Linked DNA regions of Homo sapiens: regions 1 and 3 are each linked to region 2. Evidence: fine-mapped QTL for protein levels in blood plasma. A gene starts in region 2. Each other region holds a variant in brackets. All regions are shown on one strand. Distances are between the middles of the regions. Region 1 overlaps NTRK3 (neurotrophic receptor tyrosine kinase 3). Region 2 holds the start of NTRK3 (neurotrophic receptor tyrosine kinase 3). Region 3 overlaps NTRK3 (neurotrophic receptor tyrosine kinase 3).

What was found. A credible set is the group of variants that fine-mapping cannot tell apart. PIP is the chance, under the fine-mapping model, that this variant and not a neighbour inherited with it causes the effect. Protein levels are from antibody-based Olink assays in UK Biobank. Linkage for the fine-mapping came from a reference panel and not from the study's own genotypes, which makes the PIPs less certain.
Region 1: its variant is the best candidate, but not a certain one, in a credible set for the plasma level of the NTRK3 protein (UK Biobank, PIP 0.88).
Region 3: its variant is the best candidate, but not a certain one, in a credible set for the plasma level of the NTRK3 protein (UK Biobank, PIP 0.73).

The regions. Positions count from the first base shown.
Region 1 is chr15:87,923,663-87,931,841 of GRCh38, forward strand. NTRK3 (neurotrophic receptor tyrosine kinase 3) reads right to left here. Exons shown (of 20, transcript NM_001012338.3): 17 at 5,529-5,772. Among named protein-coding and RNA genes, the nearest start is that of MIR11181, 19 kb to the right of the region's middle. The variant T/C (reference allele first, on the strand shown) is at 4,636.
Region 2 is chr15:88,251,742-88,259,920 of GRCh38, forward strand. It overlaps NTRK3 (neurotrophic receptor tyrosine kinase 3), which reads right to left and starts at 4,998. Exons shown (of 20, transcript NM_001012338.3): 1 at 4,903-4,998; 2 at 4,543-4,745; 3 at 4,165-4,427. The coding sequence starts at 4,412. NTRK3-AS1 (NTRK3 antisense RNA 1) reads left to right here and starts at 989. Exons shown (of 4, transcript NR_038229.1): 1 at 989-1,737. RefSeq lists enhancers at 3,142-3,679, 3,680-4,216, 6,557-6,851.
Region 3 is chr15:87,967,036-87,975,214 of GRCh38, forward strand. All of the region lies in intron 14 of NTRK3 (neurotrophic receptor tyrosine kinase 3), which reads right to left. Among named protein-coding and RNA genes, the nearest start is that of MIR11181, 25 kb to the left of the region's middle. The variant G/C (reference allele first, on the strand shown) is at 4,589.

The DNA.
Region 1 (8,179 bases), 330 kb before region 2:
TAGCTCCAATAATTGCTAGGGTTTGAAAGTGTCCTCCAAAGATCCTCTGTTGAAAACTTAACCCCAATGCAACAGTGTTGAGAGGTGAGACCTCTAACAGGTGATTAATCATGAGAGCTCTGCTCTCATGAATGGATTAATGTTGTTATCATGAGAGTGGGTTTGTTATCACAAGAGCGGGTTTACTATAAAAGCAAGTTTGGCCCATTCTTGGTCTTTTGCCATGTGATGTCTTCTGCCATGTTATGACACAGCAAGAAGGCCCTCACCAGATGAGGCCCCTCGATCTTGAACTGCCTAGCCTCCAGAACCATAAGAAATAAATCTCTTTCTTTAATAAATTACCCATTCTGTGGTATTCTGTTGTAGCAACACAGAACAGACTAAGACAATAATTAATATTTATTATTTATCATCCTAAGAGCTTTATATTTCTTAACTCTTAGTCCTTACAGAAAATGCGTGTGATAGGGGATGTTGGCTCCATTTTACAGTTGAAGACACAGAAAGGGCAAGTAACTTGCCGAAGGTCATACAGTCAGGAATTATAGGAGCAGAGATCAAACCAAGGCAGTGTGGGTCCAAGAGCTTACAACTTTTCATCTGCTATGGGGACACCAAGACATCCATAAAATCAAATATTCTTCCAGTAAGGTTGGCTTGTTCTAAATGATTCCCACTTCCTAAGGATTACTGTTACTGTCTTTCTAGGAGTTTCTGGGAACCCTGACCCAGAATCTCCAGCTTAGAATCCAGTGCCTTACTACCTGCTGCCAGACCTGTTTATGACCCACACCTGTGTGTCATAAACACACAGGATTTTAGCATACTTACCCCATCATGTCCTAGACACTCTGTTCTGTCTCCTACCAGAACCTGAAGTGGGTCATCCTTGACTCAGACTATCACTCGTTTGCCTCTTCTGAACATTCTCCCAGGATAATGCACTGCTTGATTAGATAAGACTTGCTCCTGCTGCCTGCAGCTGCATTCCACATCATCTCCAAAGGCTCACCTCCCCTAAGTGAGCATCTGGTTATCTGTCTAGGTTTCTCTTGGTCTGGAATGACCTATTTCCTAATTCTAAATTCCCTTTCTGACTTCACTCATTCATACTTTTATTAGGTGCCTAACAAGTGCCAGGTACTGTCACACAGGACAGCACACAGGCACACAGGACAGCAGGATGAACAGAAAGGAACACTCCTGGAGCTCTACATTAGTAGGATCCCATTCCCCCCTCATTCCATTCCTCCCTGATCTCAGTGTATTGACTCCTCTCCCCAAATCAAAACATCTGAAAACATCTGTATTCTGAAATCTCAACCTTCTCCCCTTCAGGACATTCAAAACTTTAATACTAGATTTGACTATCAATCTCTTAGTGTTCTCTGATGTTCTTAGAAAGATATAATGGTACCCAAAGCCTACCCTTGTCAAAGCCAGTGTAAAGGTAATCTTGGAAGCATTGAGTCAGTGATTCACAGAAGGAAAAGGTGTTTGTCATTGTGAATGTCTTAAGAAGAGAGAACAAATCGCTCTGGTGTTCTGGTGTGGGAACATTTGTTTTCTCTCTCTAAATGTGTAACAGGAAATTAGGCAGTTCACCTTTGTAAATCGTCTGTATACCACTTATGTATGAGCCAGATGGTGCCTCTTCGTTTTAACAAATTAAAAATGAAAAAGAAAGACTATAAGGAGGAGTTTATCTCCATCTCTCCCCATGCCCTTATATGCACATTCTGGAATCTGCACTGGGCAGGCAAGCACACGTGTATGCACACACACACACACACACACACACACAGGCCTGGATTATCTGCACTTAGTGGTGTTAGGCATAAGAAGCCAACAAACTCTTAGGCCCAAATGAGTTCAGTAATCAGTGATAGCAGAGAGGTACAAACCTGTCCGGGGGTATCAGCTCATAGAGAGAATCCTTCACAGTATTCTCGCGATCTGACAAATCAGAGCATTCCTCCAAGGCCTTAGCCGATGTATACTGAACAAAAAAGTTTTACACAAATCACCCAAATGTGGACTTAGCTCTAGGATTCATGAGCAGTATTTCCATACATGTTGAAACCTTAAGAAAGACATTTTCCTGAGGTGGTCAATGTAAAGATTCTACTCCTTTGGAGCAGCTGCATGATCCAGTTTATCTTCTAGTGGTCACGGAGTCCCTCTCTCTGTCCCAGGAATTGCATATGGAAATAAAATTATCCACAGAGTTGTCTTGGCTTGGATGTGAGGGGGACTAGTAAGATAATATAAACAGGAGTTTATCCAGTAAGTATTGTACTACAAGCTCTTTATACAAATTAACTTGCTTAACATCAACACAACTCTGTTGAGTGAATATTTTTGTTCTCACTTTAACAATAGAAAAATTGAACAGAGGTTAGAGGAAAATGCATTCAGGTTACATGGTTGCTAATGGTGGTTGCACATTAGGATGTGAACACAGGTAAGATTAGGCCTAAATCCAAGAATTCCATTGTCATTCCAATGTCTTCCAATATGGATAATAAGACTTCAGGGTTCATTTTGATGTGACTTCAGGCAAATCTACTTCTGCCTTTCATTTTACAGAAAAGTAGGGAATGAGGAGTGGTGTATACATTAGGACACTGTGAGTAAGTGAACATGAAGATATGCCACAAGCTGGTCTTTAAATGTCTCATCAGTAGAATACACAGATTTCCAATGGTGTGCTGTGTATTTACTGTAAGAGTTATCCTTTTTTGTTCAAACTTCCTTGGGACCAAAAACATACATTTCGAGCTAGCTGGCCTTGGCTAACATCGCCCTTAGAACTCATGAAGAAGGAATTGAGGTTACCTGTAGTGTGTACATTTTCCCACCTCACTCTCCCTTCCTTAAATTCTAATCTACCCTGGCACCTACAGAAATTAGATAGATGTATTCCTTGTAGCCCTTTTAGGCATAAAGAGCAACAGTTCACAGTTATTAAGGCAAGGACAAAGAAATATCAATTGGGGATGTGATCTTTTTATTTTTTGTTTTTCCTCTTTTAAACTAGTTTCAATAAATATTAACAGCACATCTAGAAGCAAGTTTGAAGGGCCAGTTAGCACATTCTGGTCAGACATAGTTTCCTGAGACTCCAGTGAAGTCAGTAGTTATCAGCTTGGCATAATCAAACATCTGCCTTTCACAGAGAAAAACAATGAGCCATCCCTTGTTTTCATCAACACCTACATAGATCTGAGCACAGTCAGACAGACCAGCAAACCCCATTAAACAAAGTGGAAAGGCAATTAAATGATGCCAGCTCCAGCCCCACTCTAAGAAATCTATGACCCATCCCCCTCTTAGTAACCACACCAATGCCTCTCTTGGAAATGAATAAAAAATATGGTCTAGACACTAAAGAAAGACTCCTCTTTGATATTTTCTGGCAGGTCTGCCCTGGCCATCGGTCTATGACTACTGCCACATCATGTCTCCTTTTCCATACCTGGGAATACTGGATAGGACAGGTGGCTAGTGAGGCTACCCAGCTTGCTGTGGACACTGTATGCTTTGTCTTATATTCTCTCACAACGGTACATCATCTGCCATTCTTTGGTTGCACAACAAACAAGTCATTTTCTAACAACCAAGGTCATTTCTCAAACATTCCATTTTTCTCCAACCTATTGCTAAAATGAAGTATCTTGACTGATCTGTTTTAACGTCTGAGTGATCTCATTTAGGCCATCAGGAACATCAAGATAGAACTGACCTGCACACACCTCAAATTCCCAGCCTCTGGTCCACTATGCTCAGGTCAACAGGACAATCATATCTATTTGACTCACGGTATGATCACTCATTTCTCCAAAGATGAGACAATTGGCTGCCATGATCCTGGCAATACACTGAATGTTTGTGTACCCCCCAAATTCATATGTTGAAACAGCCCCAAGGTAATGGTGTTAGGACGTGAGGCCTTTGGGAAGTTACTAGGTTATGAGGGCAATGCATTCATATGGAAGAGATGCCAGAGAGATCTGTTAACCCTTCTGCCATATGGAGAAGACACAGCAAGCAGATGGCCATCTATAAATGAGGAAGCAGACCTTTACCAGACAATTAATTTGTTTGCACCTTGATCTTGGAATTCCCATCCTCCAGAACCATGAGAAATAAACTTCAGTTTTTTGTAACCTATCCCATCTGCGGTATTTGTTATAACAGCTGAAAAGGAATATGACATCCCTTGACCTCCAAAACATTGTCCCACACTCTCCTTATAATGTCTATCCAAACTCCTCTTTCCTTTGATGTCCCAAAAATAGATTTTTTGTTTTTTTGTTTTTTTGGTTTTTTTTGACAGAGTCTCGCTCTGTCGCCCAGGCTGGAGTGCAGTGGTGTGATCTTGGCTCACTGCAATCTCCACCTCCCAGGTTCAAGAAATTCTCCTGCTTCAACCTCCCGAGTAGCTGGGACTACAGGCACATGCCACCACACCCAGCTAATTTTTGTATTTTTTAGTACAGACAGGGTTTCAGCATGTTGGCTAGGCTGATCTTGAACTCCTGACCTCGTGATCCATCCACCTCAGCCTCCCAAAGTGCTGGGATTACAGGCATGAGCCACCACTCCCAGCCTTGGATCTTCTGTATTTTT[T/C]AGCAATCTGCCCTCACTCAGTTTGCAGAAGTTATCTCTGTGTCTCAGGTTGCACTCATACTTCCCCTTGCTGAGATAAGTGACACTCATGGCCATTCATCCTTTCCCTGGAAATAATAACACTATCAGAATCAGTCAATAATCCATGGAAAAAAAGATTCCCAAAGACTTAGGGAAAAAAAAAGATTCTAGGAGCAAAATAAGACTCTTGTTAATGTAAAGCAGATGACTATATGAAGGTAAAACTGAGCAGGATGGATCTTCTCACAATCAGAAAGCTTTTCTAAGATCTAACCTGTCCTCTCTCCAAAGTTGGCAACAGATAACATGCTTCCTTTCCTCATCTGTTCCAGCCCATTTGGATAATGCTCAGCAATATATTAGCCATCTTTGTTACTTTACTTAGGTTTCCTCTTCTCATCAAGATCTACTTTTGGAAACAAGATAATTCTTACATAATCACAAGATAATTTCAGAGAATAAAATGTGTCATGGGTGAGGCTAGATCTGGGACTGGGTAGGGAGACATTAAATGTAGTATCAAGTTGGGTGTGTCTGTGTGTGTGTTTGGGCACATACATATACATGTATGAGTATGTTTACATGAAGAATGAGTATTGAAGCACGTAAGAACACAATGCATATGTTATTGCAATGTACAGATTACAGTTCAGTTAAATGTCCAAGAAGAAAGAAGGAGTGGGCAATTGAGAACATAATAAACAGGTATGTCAAGATGCAAGAGAGGCCAAAAGATAACTGTTGAGTGCATGTCTGGGCATGGGTGTGTATATGTGTGTGCCAGAGTGACAGGGTTAATGGACAATGAAAAAGACATGTAAGCAAGGCGCTAGCTCTGTGGCTGAGTCCTGCAGCTGGGAAAGTCACTTTACCCTGTAATAATCCGTGCTGTAGACATCTCTGGACATGCCGAAGTCCCCAATCTTCACTAGCAGATTCGCTCCAACCAGGCAGTTCCTGGTGGCCAGGTCTCGGTGCACAAAGTGCTGGGAGGCCAGGTACACCATACCCGAGGCGATCTGACTGGCAATGTGGAGCATTTGGGAGAGCCCCAGCTCACCCTTGGCCTGGCGTGGCTGTCCATCCACAAGGATCATTGCATCTGGCCCATGGGCCCTGCAAGAGCATGGGGAGAAGAGAGGGGGCAGAGAGAAATCAGGAGATCAAGGAGAAAGGCCTTCCTGGGTCCCTGCCCTCTGGAATGCCCCACAGAAATAAATAAAATTTCCCTTTCCATCCTGCCTATGGCTTATTTTTATCTGCCCCAAATTAGATTATGTACGTGTGGGTAAGGGTGAAACTCCACAACCAGATTCTGGCTAAGATGAGAGCAGACATACTCAAATGGAAGAGGGAATAAACCTACTCTTTTTAATATTTCACTGCTTCCTAGGATTTTCACAGGTGCTAGATGTCTATTATAGAATAATTAGCAAAACAACAAATAACTCTGCCATAGCCCTTACTATATGCTCTGATTGTTTTAAATATTGTAATTCACTCAATTTTCCCACCCCAATTTTGAAATAAAGAAATTGAGGCACAAAATGATGAGATTGCTCAGCCAAAGTCCCAGAGGTCCAGAATGGCCATATGGGAAATCAGGAAGTAGGATCTGAAACCAGACATGTGACTGTAAAAAGTGAGCTTCTAAAAGGAACATTGGGAGTGCTTGTTCCAAGATTCCCTGGCCCTGCCCCCTAGGATTCTGATTGGCTAGGTGAGCTTGCTCATTTGCATCTCCCACTAGCTCCCAGGGCTGATGCTGGCAGTCCACGCTCAGTGGCCCTGGGACACTCCTAACCACTCCACCACACCGCTTAGCACTGGGTAACTTATGGCCATAGCAGTGCACAGTGGAGAGAGCCTCTGACCTTGAAGCATGGGTCTGGGGTACCCCCAGAACCCATTCCATCCCAAATCAAGCCCGGATTTGTTATTCTAACACCTTGCCTGATCATATCAGTCACTTTTAGCATTCACTCTTTTCTCTAGAAAGCCCAGTGAGCCGTAACCACACCCAGGGCCCTTATTTATGAAGTTGTGGACCAAGGAGCCCTGGTGTACAGCAAGGCCTCTGCCTGCTTTACTGCTTCTCTGATTTCCTCTGAAAAGCACCATTAAGTAGGAGCACATCCCTTTTACTATCTCCGGTGGGCTCTGCCTACCTCACTCCTCAGAAGGAGGAAGGCTGCATCAGCTCACAAGGAAGAGGGGTCAGCAGAGAAGCCCTCCCTTCTGTCTGCCTGGAGAGTGCACTCCAGCCTGCCTCTCAACACCACCAATATGGAGATGTGAGAGCAGGCAGGGTTGGCCTGCGGGTTATGGAGGCTGTGTTTGTGAGAACAGCCGACAGGATGCCTCCCAGGAAGGGTTGGTGCGGCCTGTTGCTAAGAGCTTCTGGTCTCAGAGAATTCTTTAGAAGGTCACCCTCGACTGATAGAGCCTAGGAAGACAGATTAATGGAACCTACTGGGAATCTGGTCAGTAGTGGAGGCTAAAGTTCAGATTTTGCTGCAAAATTGCCCCAGGAAGACTGTCGAGCCTTGATTTAGAGAGACTCCCCCATGCTGTCTTCAGGAAGGGATCCCATAGAGACACAGAGGTCTTCAGAGTGTCAGCAAGTCCTTGTAGAACTGTACTCACAGGCATGCATTCCCCATGCTGTCTGCCATGGAGAAGGCAAGGCACTGGCACTGCCCCTCACCTTATACACTTCTTTCTGTTTCTTCTGTACTCCTTTTTCTTTTCTTCTTACTTTCTGCTTCTTCCACTCCTTATCTTTACTCTAGGCTCTCACTCTTTATTTCCCTCCTACTATCTTCTTTCTCTTCCCTTTTATCATGTATGACAGTAGTGCAGAGGCACCTAGGAGCTTTCTTTAACCCTGCTGGTGGCTCTTGGGGCTGGAGATACTGCTGAATGTAAGGATAGGATGTGGTGAAAAGTAGGGCATGCCCTTTGGGCCCCAGGGGAACAAAAGGACAAAGTGAGGGCTATCCCGAATATTGAGAAAGAGTGTTGCCTAGATTAGAAGCTACCATGGTTCACAATTCTCACAAAATAGTAATAGTAATAACTTCAATAGCAGCTACCATTGGCTGATCACTGAACTACTTGCAAAACTTGTCTAAGCATTATACATATAGTCATTTAATACTCATAGCAACAACCCCGTGAAGCAGTTATTAATAGTCGTGTTTTCTAGGAGAGAAAATTAAGATTTAATAACTTGCTCCAATTTGCAACTAAGATGTGACAAATCCAAGATATGAACCCAAATCTGTCTTATGCTAAAGACAAAGTTCTCCAGGAAAGGAATCCATTTCATTGTGAATCCAGGTTTAGAAGGCTTAGAACATCCCACAGATGCTTTCATTTCCTTTAGGGCCATCTTTATAGAAACCTGACTCATAAGCAGAGCTCCAGAGAGTCCTCCATTCCATTGCCTGGTACTAACTCATTTCTTTGCCCCTCAAAACCACGACACCCTATTGAATGTCCCACTTCAAGAGGATGCTTA
Region 2 (8,179 bases):
CTCCCTTTCTCACAGCAGCACCTCCTGTTCAGCCAGGCAGGAGGGTAGTAGGAGCCTTCTAGGACCCTAAGGAACCTTCCAGGTTGCAGGCTTAGCCTTCCTGGGGCCAGTAGATGAGGACTTTCAAAGCAGTGGCCAGGTTGGGCTGGTTTTTGCCCAAAGCTGTCATGGCCTCAGGTCCCATGGAGGTGCAGAGCAGATGCCCTTGGCCCCAGGGTGTATGACAGAAGCTTGACCTGCTGGGCTTCCTGGGGCAGGGGGTCTTGGCTCTGGAGCCACCAATAGCCTTTCCTTGGTGGAAAACCCCAGGGCCTCAGGAGACCAAGGTCTCCAGGTTTGATCCTGGAAGTACCTTTCTCTGGGGCTGTAACTACTCCTGCTTCCAAATCTCATGTCAACAGCCCCTCACATTTCTGCCCACCTCTCTCAGACCTAGTCCTAATCCTGGGGTTCTGAGCACCAAACTGTGCCTACCGAGAGTGAGCCCCATGATGCCTTTGGGGCCTGGCTCATACCCTGCTGGGTCATTGTCAAGGCTGGGTCTCCCCTTGATCCTTAGAAAGAATGAGACTCAGGAGCCAACATGACGGCCAAAGCCCCGAATGATCCTTCAGCCAGCCAGAAGAGGGCCTTCAGGGAGGGCCATGGAAATGAAGGGACCAGAGAGCTGCCAAATGCCAGGGACCCTGTGGCGGCTCAGAGTGAGACCCAGCTGGCGACTCAGAGTCCCAGCTAAGAGCCCGTGGTCTTTGCAAGCCGAGGTAGCCAGCCCCAAGCATACCTGGTCCAGCCATGCCATCCTCTCCCACTTCATCTTCTTTCTAACAGCTAAAGACCATACCACTCCAACCCAGCCCCAGGTAGGCCTGGCCTAGCAAAGCGGCCCAGACAGTCCACCATGGCCACCACCCTCCTGCCTTTGTGACGTCACAGCCTGGTTGGGTGTGGCTGCGCATGGACCCTTCCAGGCTCCATGAGGTTCCTGTGTATCAACAGCTGCAAAGGCAAAGGGATTGGCCTCCTGGGCAGAAAGGGGCCAAAAGGGAGGGCCCTTTGGAGGAGCGTGGCTCTGGTGAGGGGTGGAGGTGAGACCCACACTTATGCTCTGATGCCTTGCAACTGATTTCCTCCAGATACAAACAGGGCAGCTGAATGGGGAGATGGCCTCCCCCATCAGAGGCAGTTCCCAGCCAGCTTCCTTGGATGGCCACACAGGAATCACTCCACACACCATCCCTGAGAAGCAGAACCACAGGGAAACCTCTTGTCCCTCTGGAAACTCAGTTACAATCAGTTCAGCACTTGAAGGAAGGATCTCGAAACATTACAGCCCGAAGAACAAGAGGGTGAAACTGTGGAGGCCTCAGCATCTTCTACCCAGAGTGTGCCCAAGCTATACCCTGGGGCAGCCACCAGCATCAAGAGCTTCAGGCCAGTAGGGAGCTAGGGGACCTCTTGGTCCCATTTCCTTGATAACATCAGAAATCTGAAGAACAACTCTCCAGCAAGGCACGGGCTTCAACTGAAGCCCTCTTCCCAAGTCATACTAAAACAAGAACTGACCCCAGCTGCGGGTGCTTCTCTCTGCCCGCACATCCCTCTTCCAGCCTGCTCCATATGCAGCCCCACACAGTGGGGGTTCCTGTTGGGATTGTGTGTCTGGGGCAAGTGACCTTACCACCCCAAGCCTCCATTTCCTCAGAAGTCAAACAGGGATGGGGATGCTGACTTTCCGGGGTAAGCGTGACTCTCCGCCCTCTCTCCAGCCCCCTGGCTCTGGAGTGGAAATCTGGGCTCTTCTCGAGCTCAGTCAATACCAGCCATAGATATAACAGGGCACTGGGGAAAAGATGGGGCAAGGAGAGGTCATTTGACCCATGACCTCTGACCCTCCCCCACCTGCCACTGGCACAGCTCCTGTGGGAATCCATTTCCCTTGTTCTTTGGTGTTGGGTGGATTTAGAGAAAGGAGTCCTGATGGCCTCTCAGAATCCAAGTCCTGAAACAAGAATGGGGACACACACAGAGGGGCTCCAGATCCACTCCCTGCTCACTATCCTCCCAGACGCCCTCCTGAGGCCCTCCAGTACCAAAGAGGGCAAGAGGCCACCCCAGTCCCCTCCCATCACAGACCTTTCTGGCAGCCTAGAAAGGCTAACCCAACTCTGCCCTATGAAACTGCTTCCCTGAGCATCATTTTCAGAGGAGCAACACCTCTGTGTGGCTATAAAGAGCCTACGTGATTGTGACCATCCCTGCCTCCCACTGGCTTTCTACAGACAGACACATCCTTGGAGCAGCACACTGGATGCAGCTCACCCATTCCCAGAGACCCAGGCTGGGTACCAGGGGCCCCTTCTTCCAACCCTTGGCCCACCCCTGGCAATCTCTAGGTCAGGCTTCTGAGCACCAAGACTGGCTGCTCAGCTCCCACCTTCACCAGCACCCTACTACCCACATCCACCCCCTACACACATACACATACAGCCCCAGCAATGCACTTCCAAGTCTGAGTTTCCCTAACAGTCTCACTCTGAACCCTTCTCCCTGCATCCTTGGGAATGCTGGAAGCCTGTGGCCTGCAGTGGGGGAGAGGCACAGTTGGGTCTGTCCTGTTCCTCCTGCCCTCCCTGCTGACCCCCGCCCCTTGGCTGTTTATCTTGTCATCTCTGGCCGGGTTGAAGAGGGTAAGGGGGTGAACAGCAGAGCTGAGATATGGGTCAAGCTTGTCTCCTGGGCCAGGAGTCAGAGACATCTCCTGGGCTATCCATTTCCCTCAAACTGTCAGCTGCGAGAGCGCAAGCAGAAGCTCCATTAAGCCGAGAGGGCTGGTGGGCTTTCCAAAGAGCAGGACTGCAATTCCTCCAGGCTTTGCAGCCCCATGGCCCTGGGCTGAAGCAAGGGGAGGTGCTCCCAGAGCAGCACCAAAGGCAGGTCCGGCCCCCTTAAGTCCGTCGAAGGGGTAAAGAGCCACCCAAAATGCCTTCCTCCAGACCTTGGCCAGGACCTCAGCACAAACCCTTCTCAGCTGCCTACCCATTGCTGAGGGTCCCCAAGGGCTGGAAGCCTTGGGGGAAAAGAGGTGAGAATTATCCTCTGAGCAATTCCAGTATGGTCCACACCCTTCTCCAGGGTGGTAGGTTAGGAAGGGGTCACCTGGCCGAGGTCAACGAAAGAAAAGAGGAGCAGACTCTCCAGTCCCCAGCCCTCGATCTGTCCTCTCCTTTGCGTCTGCTGCCATCCCCACCAAAGAAAAATAGCAAGGAGAAAAGAGCAGGCCACCACTGGTCTCCCTCGGAGGGGGCAGAACCAAGCAAAAGCCAGCCAGAGTTGAATGTTCCAAATGAACCGATCCGCACGATCACACAAGAAACCCCTCTCCTCAAAACACACGCCCTCTCCTCTCCCTGCGCCATCCTGACTCGGAATAGTTCCGAGCAGTTATCAAAGCCCAAACTGGGAAGGGATCTGTAGGCGCCCAGATGCAGATGAGGGTGGCAAAGGGGTGTCTCGGAAATGCCCAAAATGGGGCTGGAGAGGGCGGGCTGCAGGAGGGGAAGGGAAGAGGTAGGCGTCCATGACGGCCTCCACACGTCCAAAGTCTCCCCGCGAGCAGCCAGCTCGCAACTTGTTTACTTGTCAGCATGTTTTGCTGTTTCCAAATGGAAATAGTTAAACACCTCGGCTGGATCGCGAGCAGTCCCTATCTGTCACCTTCCCTGCCGGCTAAGCGCTGCCGCCGCTGCCACCGCCGCTGCCGCCTCTGCCAAAGAATCGAACCTCGTCTACTTTATTCCACTTGAGCGTGGCCAAACTGTTGCTATTTAGTGGGGAGCAAAAAAAAACAATTTGCACCATCGAAACGAGCCAGCAACTGGTTGGGAGGCGGGCGGTAGCTGGGCCCCGCGTGCCCTCGGCGGCCGGGGTCCTCTCCGGGGAGAGGCACACACACGCATAGCCGGATCGCGCCTCGCCAGGGCCGGAGTCACCTGGAATGCGCAGCCGGAGAGCATCTCCCGAGCCAGAGCGAGCCTGACGCGCGCCCAGCGGGCGGCGGGCAGCGGCGAGCTGGGGCGGGCGGAGGGCCGGCTCCCGGCCGCGGGTGGGCAGGAGGGAGACGCAGAGCGCGGGGGAGGCAGGCTGGGGAGCGGCCGCCTGACTTACATGGAAGTGATATTCCTTGAGATGTCCGTGATGTTGATACTGGCGTTCCCATTGCTGTTCCCTGAATCCTGCCCTTCCAGGAGGGGGAAGAGGTTCCCATCGTCCGGCCGCCGGCAATTGATCTCAGTCTTGCTGCAGACACAATTTGCAGGGCAAGCCAGCACGGAGCCCACATAGTCCAGCCAGACGCTTCCCAGCAAGAAAATCCGCCAGAAACTACACTTGGCTGGGCAAAGAGAGACATCCATCTCCGATCGCTGCTTCTAAAAAAGAGGAGGAGGAGAGGAGAGGGGGGTGGGGTGGGGGGAGTGGGGAGAGCAGGGGGGGAAGGAAACAAAGACGGCGAGGGAGGGGGGAAGGGGGAGGGGGGGCCTCTGCCTTTGAAACGCCGAGCGATCAGATGCAAAATCCTTCAGCGTCTGAAACCATCGCGGACGCCGCCGCCGCCGCCGCCGCCGCCGGGTGGGAGCCGCGAGGAGCGCCTAGTGGCGCGGTCTGCCGGGCATGGTGGCCGGCTCGGCGATCGCTGACTCGCCGGGTCCGGGGGCTCTGGAAGCGAGGCGCGCTCTCCGACTCCGAGACTTTGCAGGGTTGCAACAGACGGTGGGGAGGCAAAAAAAAAAAAGGAAAAGGAAAAAATGGTGCTAAAGTCACCAAGTCCCACCTACTGGGCAGAATTAAAACGGACACACCACGCACCTGCAAAACACACACACTCACTCTCACACATACACACACCCGGAGCCCGAGGAAAGGAAGAGAAGGAAGATGCAGTAGGAGCTGCAGCAGCCGCCGCGAATGGCTCGCCGCGCGGCTGCAGAAATGTACAAGTGCTCCGAGCCTTACGAAACGCACGGGTTATCGGAGCGTCTTCCTCGGCTCCCTCCCTCCCTTCCTCCCTCCCTCCTCCCCTCCCTCGTCGCGGCCTCCTCCCCCCGCCCCCCGCCCGGGCTGGGAGCGGCAGGAGAGCGGAATCTCCCCCTCCCTCCCCTCCCCACACCCGTCTCTCTCCCCGCCTGTCCTCTCCCTCCTCCCCACCCACCCACCCACCCACTCGCCGGCTCGCGGCTGTAGCCGGCACCGCCACCCGCAGCCTCGCGGCAGCCCGCCCGCTCCACGCCTCGCAGCGCGGCGCCCGCTAGCCGCAGCCCGGGGGAAACCGAGACCGAAGGGAAAAAGTTGCATTTGAGATTGCGAGGGTCGGGGCTGGGGAGGGAGAGTTGGCGAGCTGGCTGCACGACACGGAAAGGCGCTCTCCTTTCCACTTTTTGGCCCTCGCGCTACCCGGTTTTGCTGCAATCCGGACCGCGGTAGGAAGTGAAATGAACGTGGCGGAGGTGATTGGGGAGTGCTCCCAAGCCTTGGGTGGGGGGCGCTCCCAAGCCTGGGTGGGTGGGGGGCGCAGGCTCACGGACGGCGACGGGGGGTGCCGGAGCGCACAGACACCCCAGAGAAGCACCCAGAGCCGGGGACCGGGACCGCAGACGCGCAGTCCTTGGTCTGAATGACACTCATTTCCGTAATCTAGAGTCTGGGGCTCTGGTCTTGGCTGGGAGGGGACTGCGGGACATGGCACGCTAGGTGCCCCCCGTGCCCGCTGCGCTTTCTTGGAGGTGGGTTTTGCATTCGGCCTTGAGCAGGCATGGATCGGGGAAGGAAGAAACAGGGGTCGAAAGGGCTGCGCTGGAGAGCCGAGGTGGCCCCGGGCGAGCTGTGCGTGCAAGAGAAATGGCCGGGGGAAATTGAGATGCAAGGGGCATATTTTGGCAAGCGCCACGCCAGCACCGTCAGAGGCCGGCTTCTCGGGCTCAGCTCTCGGGTGAGCTGAGCTGGCTGCCGGGTGAGGGGGCGGGCGGGCTGCTTTCTCCGGATTCGGGGGCGCAGAACCTCCTCCTTCCCTCCCACACAAGCACCCCTTCCTGGTAGGGACGCAAAGCAGGTGCAGCTTTCGACGAGAGCTCAGATCTCATCCGGGAAAGAAGTGTGTGTGGGGGGGGCCCCGCTTTTGCGCTGGTAGGGATTTTTTTCTTAATAAAACATAAAGATGCCAAGTGTGAGCTGTTTGCTGAAAAAAAAAAAAACGAGCATTCGCTGTGGGAAAGGAGAAGAAAGGGTTAGGGGAGTCCGAGCAGGCAGACACACTACAGCATTCACACGCAGAAGAAAGCAGGGTTCTCCTTCCCGAGCTTGGAGGAGGGCAGGCGAGGAAGCAAAATACATTGAATTCAATTCAACTGCATCCAGTATCTGAAAGGAGTCTCCCCCGCCCCCCTGTGGATTCCGATGCAGGTCATGCAACTTGCAGGCAAGATGGGGGAAGGGGTATGCCGGTGTCACCGCCTGCCCCAGGCGCAACCACAAACAGGCCGGTCGCCTTCGGGTGGCACTGTCGCTTGGAGTAAAAACTTGGACGAAAAAAATGGAAGAAAAGAACATGCCTATACAAGGCAGTTTTCCCGACTTCCCGTCACGTTCCACCTTCCCTTGGCCCCAGGGAGATTTTTACCCCCGTCGCCATTATGGCCTTGTCTCCAGACTGGCATTTTGCCCTCCCACCAGCAGGCGGGGACAGAGTGTGAAGACCTCCTTGGACTCTCAAACCACTTGCTACTGGCCCTAGGCCAATCCTGGCTGTCCTTAGGCCACTGGGAATTTCCCTGTCACTTCAAGTGCCATTCTGGGATTGGCTTTAGAATATCTGAGAGTCAGGAAACTGAGGTGTAGTCAGATCCTAACACTTGGCCTCTCTTGGGAGGTGGCAGGTGGCAGCAGAGAAACACAGCCTCTCTCAGACCACTCCTGGGCAGGGAACGCCAAGTGGATTCAGCCCAGCATCAGTGCTCCAGCCTGGAACTGAAATGGTTGTGTCCAAAAGATGCCCAGCCCACTTTTTTGAGAGAGAGAGAGAGAGAGAAAGAAAGAGAGAGAGAGAGGATTTTTAACATGTCAAGCAGAGAAGAAGAGACATCCATAAGTTAGAACAACAAAAACAACAACAACAAAAAACCTTTAAAAACCCCTCTGGATTTGGTAAAAATGCAGATTGTGGAGCAAGGGGCCCTGATGGGCAAGAAGTCTTTCATCCTGACAGTAAAATGGGATTAAGATGGGGTGCTACGTTTATGCTCACACTCTGGGCCTGAGCAGGAAGCGACAGCTGAAAAAGAGGGAAGCCCTTTCAAAAGCAGGTGACGCATGGACACATAGAGGGGACAATGCACATGAGGGTCTACCAGAGGGTAGAAGGTGGGAGGAGGGAGAGGATCAGGAAAAATAACTCATGGATACCAGGCTTAATACCTGGGTGATGAAATAATCTGTACGACAAACCCCATGACACATGTCTACCTGTATAACAAAGCTGCACATCCTACACACGTACCCCTGAACTTAAAGGTTTAAAAAAAAAAAGCAGGTGATAGACTAGAGTGGGGAAGAGCAGAATTTCATTTCTAACCACAGGGAAATGACAAGCTTTCTGGGACTCCGCTTTCCCATCTGTAAAATGACCACGTTAAGACCAGATCCTCAAAACCCAAAGTGTGGCCCTCTGTCCAGTAGCATCCATATCACCTGGAAGCTTGCAAGAAGTGCAGCATCTGAGGCCCCATCACAGACCTCCCAAACCAGAATGTCCATCAGAACAAGCTCCCAGGTGATTCATAAGCACATCGCAGCCCCATAGTCATCCCTCCCAGCTTGAAGATTCTCTGATTCTACATGGATCTGGGCCAAAGGGACTGTTGAGGGAGAAAAAAAAAAAAAAGGTGGGGAATGATGGGGATGGGTCCTCATAATGTTATTCAGTTACAGTGAAGTTAGGGTGAAATAAACTGGGTATCTCAGAGGCAGGGGCCTTGTCAGAAAAAGACATTTGAAGTTTCATTCTAAGCTTAAGAAGATGAGAATGACCTGCTCATGCACTGCTCACAGAAATCATAGTGCAGGGTCAATAATAGTGCACACTCAGAGTTTGCTAGTTCTTAACCTCTGCAGTAGGCCAAATTTAAATGTG
Region 3 (8,179 bases), 280 kb before region 2:
GGAGACAATAAAGCTCTTGATGACAGGAAATACAACTGACTCACTTAGTAGCAGAGTGTGTGGCACAGAGTGGATGCCCCAAATATGTTTGAAGAATGAGTCAATTAAGCAACATTTGCTCATGATCTCAGAGGTATTCCTTGAAAGACCCTATTCCGGTGGGTTTGTGAAATAATCCCACAGAAGGGCAGTTCTTGCTCCCCGGGGTATAAATGATGAACAGGAAGAGGCATGAACACTGTCACCCACTTAGGACCTCATGATGAGACAGGTCCCTCTGCTGGGTGGTGTGCTGGGTGCTATACAGAGTTAACCTAAGGAAGCTCCCTAGACATTAAAGCATTTCATAGTCCAATCTTCCTATACCGAAGCTGCCCAGCTTAGGAGAAAGAGGAAGGAGGTGCCAGAGTGTCTAAACTTAAATAGGCACTCCCATAGGTCCTGGCTAGAGCACTGCGAGCCTCACATGTTCCTTAAACAAGTCCAAATGTGATGCACAATGAGAGCTACAGTGCAATGAAGGGATGCCCAACCAGCAAGGTGCTGCTTATAAATTCTCTCATCCCATGCCATTCATGCCTCCTGCTCTCACCAATGGGATTTTGTAAATCCTGTTCGTGCTGAGTCTCTTCAATCAACCAATAATGTTTACTGTGACATCAAGCCCATGTTCTTCTCCAGAGCAAGCAAACAGCCCCCACTCTGTTTTCTTATAATAGGTGAAGTCTTTCTTGTATATTTTCCACATTCCTAGCAACTGAACATGCATGGTTGTAGCCAGTTTGCTTTAAGTCAACACCCATGGGGCAGTCAGTGATGTCTGAGTAAAGAAATGGAATTCTGATGGACTTCTACACTTGGATCAAAGTGCATGACTGGTAGATTTCCCTGGCTCCAAAGGGACTCAGGTTTGATTTCAGAATCTGCTTGTGCCTGTTTTCCTAGAACAGCAGGTCTCAAAATGGTCCAAAGGTCCCTGGTGGGCTCAAGACCCTTTCAGGAGATTCATGTGTCAAAACTATTTTCCCAGCAATAGTAAGATAGTGTATGCCTTTTTTACTCTCGTGTCTCGCAGGTATTATTCATGAAGTTGTCCAGTGGTTTCCAGACATGTGATGATGTCATCATCCTGACAGCTACATGGAATGTGTGTGTATACTTGAGCTTTTAAATTATACTCAGTTTTAATTTCAAATGCAGTGAATATGATGGATATAACCCACAGAAACAAACATCATTTGGGGTTTCTATGACTTTTAAGTGAAAAGAAGTCCCAAGACCAAAAACTTTGAGAACCACTGCCCTAGAGCAATGGTGCTAGCCTAACTTCTACATCACAGCAAGTAGGGAGTGGAGGCAAAACACTTCAAAGACTTCTGGGAGGTAGAGTAAGTTAGTGAGGGTAAAAATATGTACACGTTCAGAGTTTTATAACAGGAGTGTCACTGTGACATTTTAACTGCAAAATGTTCTCCAGGTTCTTCAAGGTAGAAAAAAAAACAGGTCTAGGAAAGAAACGAAAGTATTGATATCTTCAACAAAAGCAACACCTCCTAAATACAATATTGCTTGTTTGGAGCTCTACTGATGATCTAATTTGCAGTTTGACTAACCTCACCTCACCACCCCTAAACTGACCAAAAGTTGACTCCATGTGTTTGCATCTCCCAGAGTATTGTCAAGGGTATGCAAAAACAATTAGGAGAGTGACTAAGAGCGTGTTTGTACCATGTGTAGAGATGGAAGAGAGAGCATGTGAAGCTTGTGATTCTAACTGCAATTTGGGGATTATTGGTGAATTTCAATTACCCATGCTATAGAATCAGGATATGATTATCAACATGAAGCATTCATTTTATCACTGACCAAAATAAACAGATGAAAGAACTCATTCCCCCCAGCTTTACCACCAATCCTTCAATCAGTTTTTATTTAACCTTTTAACATTTCTTTACTTCTTTTATCTCCTCACATAACATAGATGCTATCCCCCCACCCCCTGCCAGGTACCAAGGTATTTTGAACACAATGGAATTATCCTTCCTATGCCCAGCATACTCAGAAGAGGCATAGGACAATTGCCTTCATCTTTCAGAGGGAACGAATGAGAGATGAAATTCACCTTCCCAGATTGACATGGCCAATTGGTGCCCAGGCCCAAACGGAGATGCTTCCCACTCATATCAGAGCAGGGGCCTTCCGAATCCCTGCTTGAAGAGGCACAGGCTGGAAACACCCACAGGGGTGGAAAGAGTTACTGACGCGTGTGCCAGAGTCCCTTTAAGGGAAAGAGGTAACTCCTGCTTTGTGCAAATATCATTTCCAGAAATTGCGTCCCCCAACTCATATATTGAAGGACATGAATTTTCTTGATTAAAATAATGATAATAGCAATAATAAGAAGAATAGATAGATAGATAGCTCAAGTAGAGCTCAACAGCATGTGACTAATGAGAAAAGTTTTACCAGTTCAAGGCTGGGGCAGCTAAATAATGGCCATAAACTATCATGTGAAGCCAGGCTACTTCTCTACAGCCTGCTTACATCTTCTGTGCTATAAATAATTCAGAGTTTTCTTTTTTCTTAAATATCACAAAACCAAGTCAGAATCTTTATGTGAAGGATTCTGCTGTGTCCCTCTCTCCCTCCTCCTCTCCCTCCCTAGCCAGCCCAGGCAACTCCCTGGAGAATGACCCCTCAAGCTTTAACATTTATACTTTGACATTTCAGACTATTTGTTAGGCAGAGCTGCCTTCTTGAGATCAATTTCAGAAAATCTTGCCGAGAACTCCCGCTTGGCCTTGTCCAGCTGTGACAGAGAGGGTCTATTAACCCCCAAGCATCTGCTTCCACCCTCATCCAGAGAAATCCACTGATCCTCACCCAAAGGGGCAGCCATCTCTCTCACTCAGTTTGCCTTATACACAACATATTCAGAGAGAGAGAAGGACCAGGAACCAAGAGATGTCCTCCACTAAGAGACAACAGTGACTCATGGGGACATGGTATTTGGGGCATCTGTCCAGGCAGGGTCTTTTACATGAGGATCAGCAAACTCTACTAGCTACTCAGAGACAAATATGGAACAAGGAAAGGTAACTTACCCCATGTCATTTTGCTAGTGGTAGAGTTGAGACTGGGATCCGGGTCTTCATTGCTGTATGCTACCACTAGATGATGTCACCTCCACCAGCCTGGGCGGATGGCCAGGTTTAATGCTGAGGTCTCAAGCTCTTATGTGAAATGACTTACCATTTTCTTCTGAGATATCACAGCGAAGGTTTCCTGATCTTCACAAGAGTGTCTATCCATCAGCAACCAGAATTTTTTCTGACTCTACGTAGAAGGCAGAAGTGAGGGCTGAGCCTAGAGCTGGGTAGCGTGCTGGGTGTGGTGGTTTCTTGATATAAGAAGTGGGTGGTTGACGAACACATCCTGCTTGATTCTTCTTTAAAAGCTTCTGATCACACTATAACCCAGTGTTTTCTAACATGTGTGTGCTGAGTCTATTAATAGATATTAAATGAAGAATGTTTTGTGTTTAATTAGAATTGGAAAGAGGTAGAATAAGGTTTGTTTACAGCAGGACTTCTTGGAGCCTTTGATATCCTAATGCAAACTGTGAAACTCTAAGAGCTGGCCATATTGTGCAACATTCTCCAAAGTTCTCTGATGGATCCTTGGCATATCATGAGACTAAGGAGAAACATTGCTGCAATCAATAAAAAGGGGAGCACTTGATCCTTACAACATCATTTGTCTAGTAACTGGAGGAAGAGAAAAAGATTTTTCTGCAAGTTGGGGATTTCAAATTAAGGGAGAACCATATTGCAGGCCCTGAAGCTCTGCCCAGAAAACAGACCAATTTATGCAGGATAACAGTTGGTCAAGTGATTGACCCAATAAAATTATTAAGATGGCCAAAGACACCATCCTGAAAATGCACAGTGGGGTTATTCTGGTCTTCTTAACGACTAGGTTGGCCATTTGGTATCAGAGGTACTGTGTAGCAATCTCCTGTTATGGTAGCAAGAAATGCCAAATTGACAGCCATAAAGATTGAACGATTCTGTGAGTCATTTAAACATGAACTTAGAATTTAAATTCTCCCAAGAAGGACATTCTCAGAATATGTTCTATATTGGTGGTGCCTCCCCTGCTGCCCACTGACAGTGGGAGGAAACAGACTCAAGTTCTCCCTGGCCAGCTCTATATCTGGCTCCCTCTGAAGCAAAAGGCCTCAGTGAGGAGCTATGGTCGCCGGTTGGGGGCAACCAGAGAGCATCACAGATCCTGGCTGTGCCCTCCTGGCCAGGGTGAGCTGTCAGGAACTAGCAGTCTTGACAGAAGTTGTTTGAGATTTACTCTCATGTTCTCTGCCATGTGAATTTTCTTTCAGAATTAATAGCAAGAGCATCCAGAGATTCTGACAGAATATAATTAATAGGCTAGATTTAGTTAGTATCTAGCCAGTACTCTGGAATGTTCCTTCTGTCACCCTTGCCTTGACTTTGGCAGCAAGAGGGCAGAGCTTGGAGACTGCTTGTCTGACCCAGTGCTGAGAAAGACTGGAAATTAGCCTTTGTAG[G/C]TGCAGGGGTCCCCTGCGTCACAGAGGCTAAACCCTTTCAGCTTAAAACTAGAGGACCCTCCATGTCATGAGCTCCCGACACGCTCAAGAACCTAGCTGTGAGAGGTAAATATTTCCCTAGGCCTGTGCAGCTGCCAAGGACCATGTCACAGGCTCTGTAGACCTGCCCCATCCCTAGAAGAGCACATGTGCTCCCCACAGCTCCACACCCTCTCTTTTTAAGAGAAGTGCGTTTTTGAAGGTCAGGATTTCATGACTTTTGACCAAAGGCTATTGCAAGCCTTGCAGAGCAAAGAATACCACAATGTGATTTTTAAACGACATTACGAGGTCCCAAACAGACTGAAGGTAGTGTGAGCTTTGGAGTGAGAAAGTAAGTGGTCTATCAGAACTCTGTAACAGAGGTATCACCAGGCCATATTAGACAGCAGTGAAGTCACTTTCCCCTTTGCCAAGGCTAAGTCCTTGTCCTTCTCACTGCAGAATGAACTTGAGGGCAAGGGAGGGGAGAATGTGTCTTTTTCAGGGAAATAGGCCACTTGCTCCAGTGAGGTCTCCAAAGGCAGAGCTAGGCTTCATTGAGCTGCCATGATAACAGCACACAGGTGGCAGAAACTGAGGCAAAGACAGCCATGAAGACAAGCTGGTCATCACTGCAATCCACAAAGGCTTCCAGCATTACTTACCAAAGCCAGGTTTGGTAGTGTTTTCTGAGGTGACATGATGTTCTGTCCCTCAAACTTGGAAGAAGACAAAAGTCAGGGACTGCCATACTGGAACGATGCCTTTGGGCAGCCTCACTCCTTGCTCTGCAAACCCTCTCCATAGCTGAGCAGGGGATTTTGACCACCCCTCCAAACTCAGACATTACTTGACATTACTCTTAGGGTGTGAAGTGAGAACTGCTCGAGGGTTTTGGCTCTCAGAAAAGCCAAGCTCCATTCTTCTTGACTTACGCCAAAGGCCCCAGTCCCCACCCATAGGTAAATCAAAGCCTTAAATCATCTATTTAAGAGAAGCTTTGAGAGGATCCTTTTGGTAGAGGGTCATGAGAAAATACCATGATCCTGAGAAAGCCAGGTGCCCATCTGGTCCCATATGGAAGGCTCATGTATCTTGGTTTGAAAGTCCCACCAGAGCCCTCAGCTAAGATTTCTCTACAGCTCAGTTCTCTGGGTAATTTGCAACCCTGCCGTTTTCCTCTACCTCAGAGTTCCAAGTTCCTTCCCAGATACAACCCACACAGACCTGGGCTGGAGGCCTTTGATACCAAATCTGAGCCATCAGTACCTTCTACGTCCCTGTGGGATCTGTGCTCCTCAGAAGTGCTCCTGTCTTTCTTGTTCCCTTCTCTCAAAGCAGAGCATGCCCCAGTCAAAGGTTTGCCTCTGATATCTTCCTTGTCCCCCTCGTTTTTGTCATTCCTCGCCATCCTGGCCCAGGAGCATACAGAACCTTTGAGCAATGCATTCACACCCACCCAGAAGTCAAGCATAATGAGGAGAGAAGATCTAGCTCTCTCAGGCACAAACACCCAGATATTTTGTGATAGAAGGAAAATGTGCCAAAATGAAAAGGGGCAAAAACACAGAGGGGTGTTAGACCTTATCACCCGTGCAGAAATCTCTTCCCTTATCAAGATTTAATTTCAAGGGAAACTGGGGTCACTCTATGCAAGTTTTATCCACTGAGTAGGAGAAACTGGAACAAAAGTCCTACCCAAGAGGGCCTCAGAATCCTGATGGAATTTCAGAACCACCCAAAAAAGCAGACAAGGGACTTATCTCTTGCCAGCATATCTCCTTCAACTCACTTTTGGGTTCAAGTAGGGTTGAAGAAGGAGTCTTATTTAGCTCTGGAAATATACTGTCAGATCTAGGCTGAGGTTTTCTTGGGAGGTGGGAAGTATAGGGGGTGGTAACAGTAGGATTTCTAAAGGCAAAATGCAGAACCAGAGCTATCCAAGGAATCTGGAGGCTGCAAGCAGTTTCGCCCACATCAGCCAGCATTAAAGATTGGCAATGTGGTGGGTGGGGGAGAGCTGGGAGAGAGGAGGAGGAGAGCTCCAGGCCCGTGCTGGACAGTCTAGATGGAAGCCAGACTCCCCATTGTTCTCCACCTTCCTCCCGTCTCTGCTGTCATGCTTAAGAGTTTTCCCTGGGCCCTTCACAGAGAAGACTCCAAGCAGCCAGCATCGCCCCTCTCCCCCTCCCTGTCTCTCCCTCCCTGCCACCTTCATTTTGCTCTTGCTTTCAGAGTCATGCTGGCAGCAATGTGCGAGTCTAGCCAGAGCACAGGAGTCAGTAAACCCTGAAGGAACAAAGGCTCCGGCTCTTTGCCTAATCCATGTCTGGCTCCGTGCAGAAAGCTACACAACAATGAAGTCGTCCTGCATTGATCTGCCCGCTCCTGAGCTTTCCCGCGGCATCCAACCCTCCCTTGCTGCCTCACCATTGTATCTGAGATGCTTGATCCTTTGCTCATGCCTGGTCTTGACCTGAGGGAACTGGGACGAGCCAGGGGATGTGTCACAGCCCAGTGCTGTGCTGCGGTCACACCTGTGGCTGGGGAGGTGGAGGTGAGGATGTGGCTGCTGGGAGCTTGGCTGCAGAAAGGGATTCCCGCACAAAAGAAGAGACAGAGGTGGCTAGAGGTCAGATTCTTGACTTCCAAATTGAGCCTGATTTGTGTTTGGTCTTTTTAGGGTGAGCATTGCATGGCTGAGCTTGGACATATCAGGAGGTCTTTGAGGTGCGTTGAAGAAAGGTTAAGTGACAGTGGGTAGTCAGACAAGGCCCTTTCTTCTACTACCTTCCTGTCTGAAGCTGCTCACCCTTGCCCAGACCTGGGCAGCCTAACCTGATATCCTAAGGATCAGGTTGGTCTCATCCTTTCTTCTACCACCTTCCTATCTGAAGCTTCTCACCCTTGCCCAGACCTGGGCAGCCTAACTGCTATCCTAAGGATCAGGTTGGTCTCATCCAACTGTATGATGAGTCCTCCCCAATATCAAAAAGGCCATCATTGCTTGGGAATCTCACCAACTGTAAGACATGTGATTAATCTCAGATCTAAGCCCAACCATGCTTTCATACACCCCCAAGTCACTAAATGCTACAATGAGAGGAAAGAACGTTGCAGATGTTCTTTTCCAGTCTTTAAAATCACCCTGTCCCAAAAGTTCCAGAAGGAAGTCAGGGATGGTGCTCATCCCTGAAGACCCCTGAAAGACTTCTCTGTCTTAGGAGTGGAGTGGGGTTGGAGGGGGGAGCACCTAGGTGGTGTTTCACAATCATAGCCTTCCAGGAGCAGAAGATGTGCTACTTTAGGGGGCTGCAGAGTGGCCAAAAGCATTTTGAGGTGTCAGGCAGTCCCCCTGTCAGTCCTGGTTCTGCCAGTTTCAAGCTGTGGAAACCTGAGCTAGTTATTCAATCTTTCTGAGCTTCAGCTTCCTTGTGGGTAAAATCTGACTGGTTCTGAGTAAGTGCTTCATAAGTTACATAGAATTATTACTATTAATGCCCCACAGTAAACCCATTCTTGGGAGGTTGGCAACCAGTTCCAGGACCTCATCATGTAATGCTAGTAAAA